2 separate regions of the Homo sapiens genome follow, and region 1 is linked to region 2. Evidence: fine-mapped expression QTL. A gene starts in region 2. The other region holds a variant in brackets. All regions are shown on one strand. Distances are between the middles of the regions. Region 1 holds the start of H2BC6 (H2B clustered histone 6). Region 2 holds the start of H3C6 (H3 clustered histone 6).

Region 1 (5,379 bases), 43 kb after region 2:
TATCCTAAAGATCACATGCCCCTTATTAATGATTGGATTGGGGATAGGTATATAGTCAGTTTTTGTGATTAGGAGAATCCTTAACAATGGAGACCCAACTTCTCTAAGAACATGATAAAGATGAGATGGGGATTGTCGATCAATGAACAATGTGTGTATGTGTTTGTGTGCGAGCGCGAGTGTGGTTGCACACTGAGAATTGTTCAAGTCTAATTGGTGAAACCAGACAGGTGAGGCGGTAGAGGGAAGAGGGTTTTATTTTTTCCTTTAGAACCTAAAATAAAAATCCAAATTAAGACCTTTTTGAAGTAATTGAGGAAAGGAAAAAAGCAAATTCAACATTAAGAACTACTTGAAAGCAGCAGTCTCCTCTCCTCCTTCCCCACCCCCGCTCCAGCCCCCCATAATATGGGCTTCTTTGGTAAAACCCGTATTTTTAAGGACTCTTGAGAAACGAAGTTTCTCTTCGTAGAGCAAAACTATGAAATTACTATTGCCTCTTAGGTACTATCGAGTGATACCTCATAAAACACGGAAACCAGAGTTTCATAAAGCCACCAGCCCAGACAGTGAGTGCCATTTTAAGTTTTAAAAACATGCCTATTTCAGCTGCAGGAGTTTCTAGTATCTTCACATGTCAGTATATAGCTCCAATTGTGAAAAGGTGAGTGGCTCTGAAAAGAGCCTTTGGGTTTACTAAGGCAGTTGCAGGGACAAGTTTACTTGGAGCTGGTGTACTTGGTAACGGCCTTGGTGCCCTCTGACACAGCGTGCTTGGCCAGCTCCCCGGGAAGCAGCAGGCGCACGGCCGTCTGGATCTCCCTGGAGGTGATGGTCGAGCGCTTGTTGTAATGCGCCAGGCGGGAAGCCTCGCCGGCGATGCGCTCGAAGATGTCGTTGACAAAGGAATTCATGATCCCCATGGCTTTAGAGGAGATGCCGGTGTCGGGGTGGACCTGTTTCAGCACCTTGTACACGTATACGGAGTAGCTCTCCTTGCGGCTGCGCTTGCGCTTCTTGCCGTCCTTCTTCTGCGCCTTGGTCACGGCCTTCTTGGAGCCCTTCTTCGGGGCGGGAGCGGATTTCGCTGGCTCAGGCATGCTATCTTTGCTGTTCTGCAGTTAGGAAAGAAAATGAAATCTACATCTCCTGATCCTCGGAATTTGTAGACAATGTTATGTAAATGAAGATTTAGTTTCTCCAACTCTGATTCGTTATTTTGTCGTGAAGTCTGCATGCAAATGAAGGAGCTTAGGTCTACTCTCCCATTGGTCATATCCTGAGAGCAGTTTTCGAGCACGGGCCACCTAATTAACATTTTATATAACAAGTTCCTACCATTGCAAACAATTCAGATTAGTTTACTTATTTTAAAAACCAGAAGTTGCTCTCTTCTATGCTTTTATATGCCAGGGAGACAAAGCTCCTGGCGCAGTTACGTCTTCGAATTGAAAGGTCGGTTTAAAAGCTCCTGGAAAAGCTATGCCTTGACATTCAGATGTAGATTCTGGAGCAGCAGGAGATACCTGAAGAACGGCAAGCTAGGCGACCGGCGATCACCCACACAATCCGGAGAACAGTGTTTCCCACTTTTTACAGAATGCACAAACACATCGTGAAAATAAAGGGTAGGCAATAAAGCTCCGGAGAAAACAACAACAAAAAAGTAAATAGCATCTCTTGAAGAGAGCTAAGACAGGAAAGACTTTCTTAGCCAAAATGGCTACAGTCCTTAATGGAAAAGCAAGTCACACCTAGTTTAGCCCTACAACGAGGATCAGAAATAAATATTCCGTCTAACTAGTGAAAATATTTTTTAAAAAATTAAAATGAAAGCCTATTTAACAAACAGCTTTACTTTCAAGTTAGTATTATTATCTTTGGCTGAAGCCCGCTGCTTAGCTAACTTCAGTTTAAGAAACTGTTCTTCCTAAATTTGACTGTCCTTTTTAAGCCCCCACTCCTTCACCCCACGCTCCCCAGCCCCCTAGCCCTTCTCCTCTCCTGCCACCATTCCCATTTCCCGGGCCCTAAGTCTCCAGGAATGAAGGTGCTGCGCAAAAAGTATTCCGCTCTGTGGGTTAGCATCTAACAAAAGTGTACTCTGAATTTATTGTGTCTTATCTTTGTTTCACAAAATAATTTGTTTTTCTCACTTCAGTGATGACGAGAAAACCTTAAAATCTGTTTAACATCTTTTTTAATTTTCAATGTAGCTAATGTAGCAGTGTTCAGAATAATAGCTAATGTG[C/T]TTTATTTGTATTTATTTAATCAAAAAATCTTGGGCCGGGCGCAGTGGCGCAAGCCTGTAATCCCAGCACTTTGGGAGGCCGAGGCGGGTGGATCACCTGAGGGCAGGAGTTCGAGACCAGCCTGACCAACATGGTGAAACCCCGTCTCTACTAAATACAAAAACTTAGCTGAGTAGGGTGGCACACGCCTGTCATCCCAACTACTTGGGAGGCTGAGGCAGGAGAATCGCTTGAACACGGGAGGTGGGGGTTGCAGTGAGCTGAGACTGCACCGCTGTACTCCAGCCTGGGCAACCAGAGCAAAACTCCTTCTTAAAAAAAAAAAAAAAAAGGGCCGGGCGCGGTGGCTCACGCCTGTAATCCCAGCAGTTTGGGAGGCTGAGGCGGGCGGATCACAAGGTCAGGAGATCGAGACCATCCTGGCTAACACGGTGAAACCCTGTCTCTACGAAAAATACAAAAAATTAGCTGGGCGTGGTGGTGAGCGCCTGTAGTCCCAGCTACTCGGAAGACTGAGGCAGGAGAATGGCGTGAACCTGGGAGGCGGAGCTTGCAGTGTGCCGAGATTGGCACTGCACTACAGCCTGGGCAACAGAGCGAGACTCTGTCTCAAAGAGGGAGAGAGGAAAAAAAAAAAAAGGTCTGGCGTGGTGTCTCACGCCTGTAATCCCAACACTTTGGGAGGCCGAGGCATGCGGATCCCGAGATCAGGAGTTTGAGACCAGCCTGGCCAATATAGTGGAACCCTGTCGCTGCTAAAAATACAAAAATTAGCCGGGCGTGGTGGCGCATGCCTGTAGTCTCAGCTACTTGGGAGGCTGAAGGAGATCCCGGGAGGCCGAGGTTGCAGTGAGCCGAGACCGCACCATTGCACTCCAGCCTACGTGACAGAGCAACAGCAAGACTCCATCTCAAAAAACAAAACAAAACAAACAAACAAAAAAACATGTGATATTACTTTTGTTCTCATTTAACAGAAAGGGAAATTAGAGTACCCAAGTTGCGGCATCCTGCCCCAAACCCCATCGCTTATACTAGGTGTAACCAGAATGATGATTTAGGCAGTCTGGCTTGGATCTAGTCTGTTAGAAAACATCTTCACCTACCTTGGTGGGCTGTGTTGCAAAAAGAGAAAAATGCTTCTTGTTCTTCTTATGTTAAAAGAATGGAAAATGAAGCATTTCTTTAATGACTATAAGAGGTTGTTAGAAATGAAAAAAAAAACCTCTGATGGTATATCTAGTCAGTAGAGAAAAAGGAGAAAGACAAATGAGAGAAAATTTAAACCGTATTAAGGGAAAAGTGGCAGAGGGAGAGAAAAAAGAAACAGACACAATGGAAAGAGAGACAGACGTGAAGAGTAGGATAAAAAGAAAGAAATTCACCTAAAGAGGATGAACTAATACGTTGGAGAGACACAAAATGAACATACACAAAGAAAACCAGAGGGAGAGGAGTCCAGTGATACAATCTGCAACTGCAAGAAGAAACAGAAAGAAAAGTGCAGATGAAGGCCCTTAACTACATCCAAACTACACATATCAGATATTCAACTGACAAGATTGGATTGAGACCCTTAAATGATTTTAATGAGGCAGGTAACATTGCCATTTGTGATTTTTGAAATTCCTGCTAAAGACTAAAATTTCTGCACTTTTATATCTATATGAATAAAAATGGTGATGTGGCACATAAGTAAGAAAAAGATAGGGGAAATTTAAAAAATGACAAAAACTGTAGAGTGGCATTGAGGTTTCCTGTCTCTGATTGAGATCTCAGGAGAGTTTTAAACATTTTTATAGTAAATATTATATCTGCACAAAAGGGTATATGCAACATAAACAAGAATTGTAAAACAAATGGTTGGTACTTAAAAACCCAGTTTAAGAACTAAAATGTCATTAGTAATTAAGTAGGCCCTGTATATAACTCTCCCCAATTCCGTGGGAGAGACAGGAAGAACTTTGAGCTAGGCGAACAGCGATCACTCACACAATCTTATGAACAGTATATCTCACTTTTCACAGAGTACACAAATACATCATCAAAATAAAGGGCAGTTTAAGAACTAGAATGTTGGGCTGGGCGCAGTGGCTCATGCCTATAATTCCCAGCACTTTGGGAGGCCAATGCGGGTGGATCATCTGAGGTCAGGAGTTCGAGACCAGCCTGATCAACATGGTGAAACCCTGTTCCTATTAAAAATACAAAAATTAGCTGGGCATGGTGGCACACATCTATAATCCAGCTACTTGGTTGGCTGAGGTAGGGAGAATCGCTTGAACCTGGGAGATGGAAGCTGCATTGAGCTGAGATTGTGCCATTGGACTCCAGCCTGGGCCACAGAGTGAGGCTATGTCTCAAAAAAAAAAAAAAAACAAAAAACTAGAATGTCATTAGTAATTAACCAGTCCTTGTATAACTCTCCTATATATATGTTTTTTATTTAAAAATTTTTTGGGCCAGACACGTTGGCTCACGCCTATAATCGCAGCACTTTGGGAGGCCAAGGCGGGTGGATCGCTTGAGGCCAGGAGTTTGAGAACAGCCTAGCAAATATGGTGATACCCTGTCTCTACTAAAAATAGCAAGATTAGCCCAGCGTGGTGACACATGCCTGCAATCCCAGCCACTTGGGAGGTTGAGGAAGGAGAATTGCTTGAACCCAGGAGGTGGAGGTTGCAGTGAGCCAAGATTGTGTGCTTCTGCACTCCTACCTGGGAGACAGAGTGAGACCCTGTCTCAAGAAAAAAAAAAAACATTTTTTTTTAGAGAAGGGGATCTCACTATATTGCCCAGGCATCCTCCCATCTTAGCCTCCCCAGTCACTGAAATTATAAGTGTCAGACACCAAGCATGGCCCTACATTTTGTCTTTATCAATCTTATTTTTGTTTTTGCTTGTTTTTTGGTTTTTCTTAGTTTAAATATCTAAGAATGGATCCATAAATTGTAAGTCATTTCATTTTGCCTATTTTTATCTTCACATAAATGGAATCACAAGCTGTATATAATTTTATGATGTTTTTTATCCAAACCAATATTTTTGAGATTCATTCATGTTCATATATGTTACTCCAGTACCATCATTTCATTATTTTAAATAGCTAAATATATAGTAACACTGG
Region 2 (5,379 bases):
TGCAGCCACTCAATAAGTGTGGATTTTTCCTATTTAGAAAAACTATATATTAAAATTATATAAACTTTATCTAATCTTTTATTTTTGTAAATAGGAATGCACTCAATGTTAAATTCTGTTCAGTAATCTTTTATTTTACATCTCAACTTGACTAAATTTCCAGAGGCTTTGTTTTAGGCAAATGACCATGCTAGATGTTCTGGTGGATTTAATGATATAAAAAGATGCATTCTGTGCCCACCAAGTCCAAGTCCTCACGTACTGAATTCCAGTAGCTGTAAGAGAAATACAGGTTAAAACTTGTTGAGCTAGAATCTTAAAGAAAGTACAGGATACAGGAAACAACATTCAAATAGAGAATGCTTCTATCTAGCATAATAGGATGTTCACTATGTTACAAATATCTGACAGTAGTTACCTTAATTATGGATAGTTAGGCTGTTTTCCTCACGCACTGAATCTCCAATTCACAAGACCCACATCTTCATGTCTGACAGGCTTCCATGAACAAAAATTTCTTCCATAAATCTCCAGGACTTCTTACTATGGCTACCTTGGCCTGCAGAGCTATTTACAGCTTTGTCACTATTAATTTTACCACATGACTAACCTCTTTCCTTAGTGCAACTAGTGGGAAAAGAGCACATTCAAAAAAGTTAGTAGAAATTTCTCAATGAGTTAAAAATACTGCACCCCATATCAAAACTGAGGAATTTGCTGAAATGTTTAAATAAACAAAATTCTTCCAAATAGCATGCAGTATCCCATATAGTACATACACCCTTCTGTATTTCCAAATAACAGCCTGTATGATTTCGTAACAGAATTCCTTATTTTCCTTCCCTTCACCTACCAGTTTCGAAGCTGTGCCTTTGTATGGAAAGGAAAGGCAGAATATTTTCTGTAAGAACTTTGAAGCCGTCCAAGGATTTTCATGTTTTGTTGATAAATATGGGGTACTTTTAATGAGATTTGATTAAGACAGGGTATTTACTAAAGTTGAAAAGTTCTTTTAAGATATCAGCCGGAAGGCCGGGCGAGGTGGCTCATGCCTGTAATCCCAGCTACTCGGAAGGCTGAGGCAGGAGAATCGCTTGAACCCGGGAGGCGGAGGTTGCGGTGAGCCGAGATCGCGCCAATGCACTCCAGCCTGGGCAACAAGGGCGAAACTCCGTCTCAAAATAAATAAATAAATAAATAAATAAATAAATAAATAAATAAATAAGAAAAGAAAAAAGCAAACAAAAGATATCAACTGGAAAGTTGAAAAGGCTCATGATTTCTGCATTTTCCTTTCGCACTCAGGTTTGAGACACACCCATCTGCACCTTCGTTGCTTTGACTCCTGCAGTTTAGAACCTATGCAAGGCTGTCAAGTCTGCAAGAGCTGTGTGTTAGTGCCACGGGTCTAGGTGTTCCAGCTAATAACCTTAGCCTTAGACCAGTATCAGGCGCACAGAGAGTAACGTTGACCGCACCCAAGGCACCGACCGTCGCCGGCAAGTAGCTGGGTCTCAAAACACTAGTGGAGTAAGGCAGCCTGATGCAGATCAAAAGCGCTGGCCCCTCGGGCAAGGTCAAATAAACATCAAGGAAAGGCAAAACCAAGGCGTTGAAAGCCTATGCAGTTAAGACCTAAAATGCAGGCCACCACATGAAAGAGCGTTGAGCCAGAAAACAAGAGGATGGGTTAAGCAGGGTACAATTAAGTGGCCAGGAGTTTAGAAAACGAGAACAATGTACAAGAAAGCAGCAGAGGGCCTGAACAGCAAAACAAAGCCAGCTAAACCAATGGAGAACAGCGTAGGGAGGCCCAGCCCTAGGCGAAAACCTGAGGGAGCGCTTAAATTTGGAAATTTAAATGAAGCATCGAGGGAACTGAATGCCACTATTTCAAATGTCTATTTGGATCAGTGCAGTTTAGTGGTCTAATGCGTCTCAAAGGATTACAGCCCTTTTCACGGACAAAGTGGTTGGCTCTGAGAAGAGCCTTTGGATTTAAGGTTTGTACTCAAAACAATTCACGCCCTCTCCCCACGAATGCGGCGGGCAAGCTGGATGTCTTTAGGCATGATGGTCACGCGTTTGGCATGAATAGCGCACAGGTTGGTGTCCTCGAAAAGCCCCACCAAGTAGGCCTCGCAGGCCTCCTGCAGCGCCATCACCGCGGAACTCTGGAAGCGCAGGTCGGTCTTGAAGTCCTGAGCTATTTCTCGCACCAGGCGCTGAAACGGCAGCTTCCGGATTAGAAGCTCGGTAGACTTCTGGTAGCGACGGATCTCGCGCAGAGCCACGGTGCCAGGGCGGTAGCGATGGGGCTTCTTCACGCCGCCCGTGGCCGGAGCGCTCTTGCGAGCTGCCTTAGTGGCCAGCTGTTTGCGCGGTGCTTTACCGCCTGTGGATTTACGAGCCGTCTGCTTAGTACGCGCCATAGTTCATCTGCAAAGTAAATGAGTTAGGAAGATTGGTTTGCCCCTCTATATAGGAACAGAATCACTCTGATTGGATTGTGGACGATCCCTGTTAGTGATCGGTTGCTAAATTCCGGAAGTGGCCGTAGAGATTCACGATTGGTTTATTTTTTCAGTGCAAGATTCTGATTGGTAAATTTGGATAGAGAACTGGCTCTTTCAAACAAGTCGTTTTCCGTTACAGGTTTCTTTGATGTTTCACGTAGACCATGACCTGCAAAGACATTGATCATTTAACTTAATAGACTGATCTGTTATCCTGTTTAGCTATAAAAAATCGAATGTGTTTGCGTTAGAAAGTGCTTTAGAATTTTTTTTCCAAAATCTCCGCTGCTTTTTTCTGCATTTTCCTGAAGTTTTTCCCTTCCTTATTCACTCATTTAAAATCCGTTGCCTAAGTATCTCTCAATGATTCCTCGTTTCATTATAGAGTACAAGGCTAATTCACTCAAACAAGGTTTTCTAAGATACACTGTTAAGCATAAGGAACTTTGTGTTTCATTTGTGTTATAGTAAAATTCTAATATCCTGGAATCCCTACCTCTGTAATATCGGGTTTGACTCAAAGAACTTAACACTATTATTTCGTTTTGTTGAAATTAAAACGTCCAGACATAATGGCAAGAGCCGTCAAAAAAAGTATTTTCAATTTAAAATCTTGAAAAAGATGGCGGCGAAGAGAGTGTTAGAAGGTTGTTTCTCTGTAAGACAACAATGGCGCAGTTTCTCCGGATCCCTGCGGGAGAGAGCTGAGGTGCACCGAACAATTTAAGACACATCCAACAGAACTTTTATAGGAACTGGACTCACCCAAATAACAGGACTTCTTAACTTGGTTTTCGCTTCCACACTCAACAGCTCCCAATTACTTTGAAAAAGTAACAAATGTTTACTGGAAAAGATTCTTAAAGAATGACATTACAGCCTAACACTATTGTGAATTAACCTATCGGATTCCCTGTAAGGTGTTCTTTTCCTAGCCAATAAAAAGAGCAGTTTGGGAATTCCTAATTTACATACTTTTAATCTATTGGCTACTTTGGTTCAGGCAGAGTTTTGATTTACAAGTTCGCGTTTGTGTAAGCGTACTATAAATATTTCAGAGAGGGATAGTGCGCGTGCGTGCCCGTTGCAAGGTCTAGTTTCTTTTTGTTTTTCTTTCCCAGTAGGTTTTCTTTCTCATTGGAAAGCTATTTTGTAAAGTGTAGCAGGTTCGCAATGACGCTGGCATGTAGTCCAAGGCGATTGACATCATGAATATGCTGGAGCCCCCGTCCTCCAGGGAGGGGAAACGGCTAAACCAAATTTATCACTGCCCGCAAATGCCCGCGGATGTCTGCAAGCTGGAGTGGAGAGGAGACAAAGGATGCTTTGTGCATTCCTGCTCATTCCCTGAATTCTGTTAAACCTGCCCTATTTTAGGGCATTCATCAAAATTCTGCTAACCACAGGATTGATACAATTGCACCTTTCAAGTTAGTGTCTATTTTGCAAATTTGAATTATCTTAGGACTCGTGGGCAAGTCTTGACTGAAATTACACATTGTCGTGCGTTTCAATCTCACATCTGAAATATATATGAGTCCCTTGCTTCTCTCCTTTTCAGAAAAAGAAAATTCTGTACACTTTAAATCACGGTAAAACGGTTAGGTATGTTGGCAAAATTGTTTCATAGGAAGCAAGGGAAGAACTGAAATCCTTTTGTATAATATGATTACGTATTTGTGGGCTGGGCCGTTTGTTAATGAGAGCTATGCACCCCCTGTGCTTTTCCTCTCCACACTCCCTACATCTCATCTTCTGAGGCCCAAGACCTGTTTATTGATATTATCTTCTGTTTTCTCATTTTCATTTTAGTTTTTTCATTTCTATTATTAGAATGTTAATATCTACATCTAAAAAATGTTTCCAAAATCAAAAGATAAACTTTAGGTCACAGTCAGTGAGAACCATTAAGGAAATTCCATCTTTATGCCCCATAGTTCTATTTCCTCCCCAGTGTTCTTAAATCTGTCAATCCGGTGTTTTGCCATTGGAACCTACCTTCAGTTCCTTTCATAATCCTCATCTCTAAATATGTGTAAAGCTTTATTTTAGAAGTCAGTGCAAAATTTACATGATTACATAAGAACTTAGCAGCTCACTTGTATTAATCAGTAATTTCCATCACTATTTCCATACCTGAACACAATTTCCCATAGGATCTGTGTTATGTGATAAAACAGTCAGAAACCAGTTGTGGCTACTGAGCATTTGAAATGTGGTTGTTGCTGCTGAGGACTGACTTTCTTTTTTTTTTGAGAAGGAGTCTTGCTCTGTCACTCAGGATGGAGTGCAGTGGGGTGATCTCAGCTCACTGTTAGCTCCACCTCCCGAGTTTAAGCGATTCTCCTGCCTCAGTCTCCAGAGTAGCTGTAGTTACAGGTGCTTGTCACCATGCCCGGCTTATTTTTTTGGGGGGGGTGGGGTGGAGGTATTTTTAGTAGAAACGGGGTTTCATCATGTTGGCTAGGCTGGTCTCGATTTCCTGACCTTAAGTAATCCATCCACCTCGGCCTCCCAAAGTGCTGGGATTATAGCCGTGAGCCACTGTGCCCGGCCTGAATTTTTATTTTACTTTTCATTATTTTAATTCAAAGGCTGATACTTCAGTTATTGGAAAATGTTAGATATGTTTTAAACAATCAGATATATGAATTTTATTTTTCAGCACTGAAATTTATGAAATCAAAATGAAATTCCATTTATTTCCAACAAAAATGTAATATCAAATTGAATAGGATGTCCCTCATATTTAGAAGACTTAAGATTTAAAAAAGAATGTGAAATATTGCATTAATAATGTTTTTATATTGACTATATTTTGAAATAATTATTTTGTATTTTGTTTTAAATACAATAATTATTA

The links. PIP is the estimated chance that this variant, and not a neighbour inherited with it, causes the effect. A credible set is the group of variants that fine-mapping cannot tell apart.
Region 1: its variant is the best candidate, but not a certain one, in a credible set for the expression of H3C6 in blood mononuclear cells (TOPMed, PIP 0.55).

The regions. Positions count from the first base shown.
Region 1 is chr6:26,179,517-26,184,895 of GRCh38, reverse strand. It overlaps H2BC6 (H2B clustered histone 6), which reads right to left and starts at 1,135. Exons shown (of 1, transcript NM_003523.3): 1 at 666-1,135. The coding sequence starts at 1,100. The coding sequence ends at 720. RefSeq lists enhancers at 813-872, 1,323-1,512, 1,372-2,101. The variant C/T (reference allele first, on the strand shown) is at 2,252.
Region 2 is chr6:26,222,208-26,227,586 of GRCh38, reverse strand. It overlaps H3C6 (H3 clustered histone 6), which reads right to left and starts at 2,452. Exons shown (of 1, transcript NM_003532.3): 1 at 1,971-2,452. The coding sequence starts at 2,432. The coding sequence ends at 2,022. RefSeq lists enhancers at 1,210-1,825, 1,826-2,442.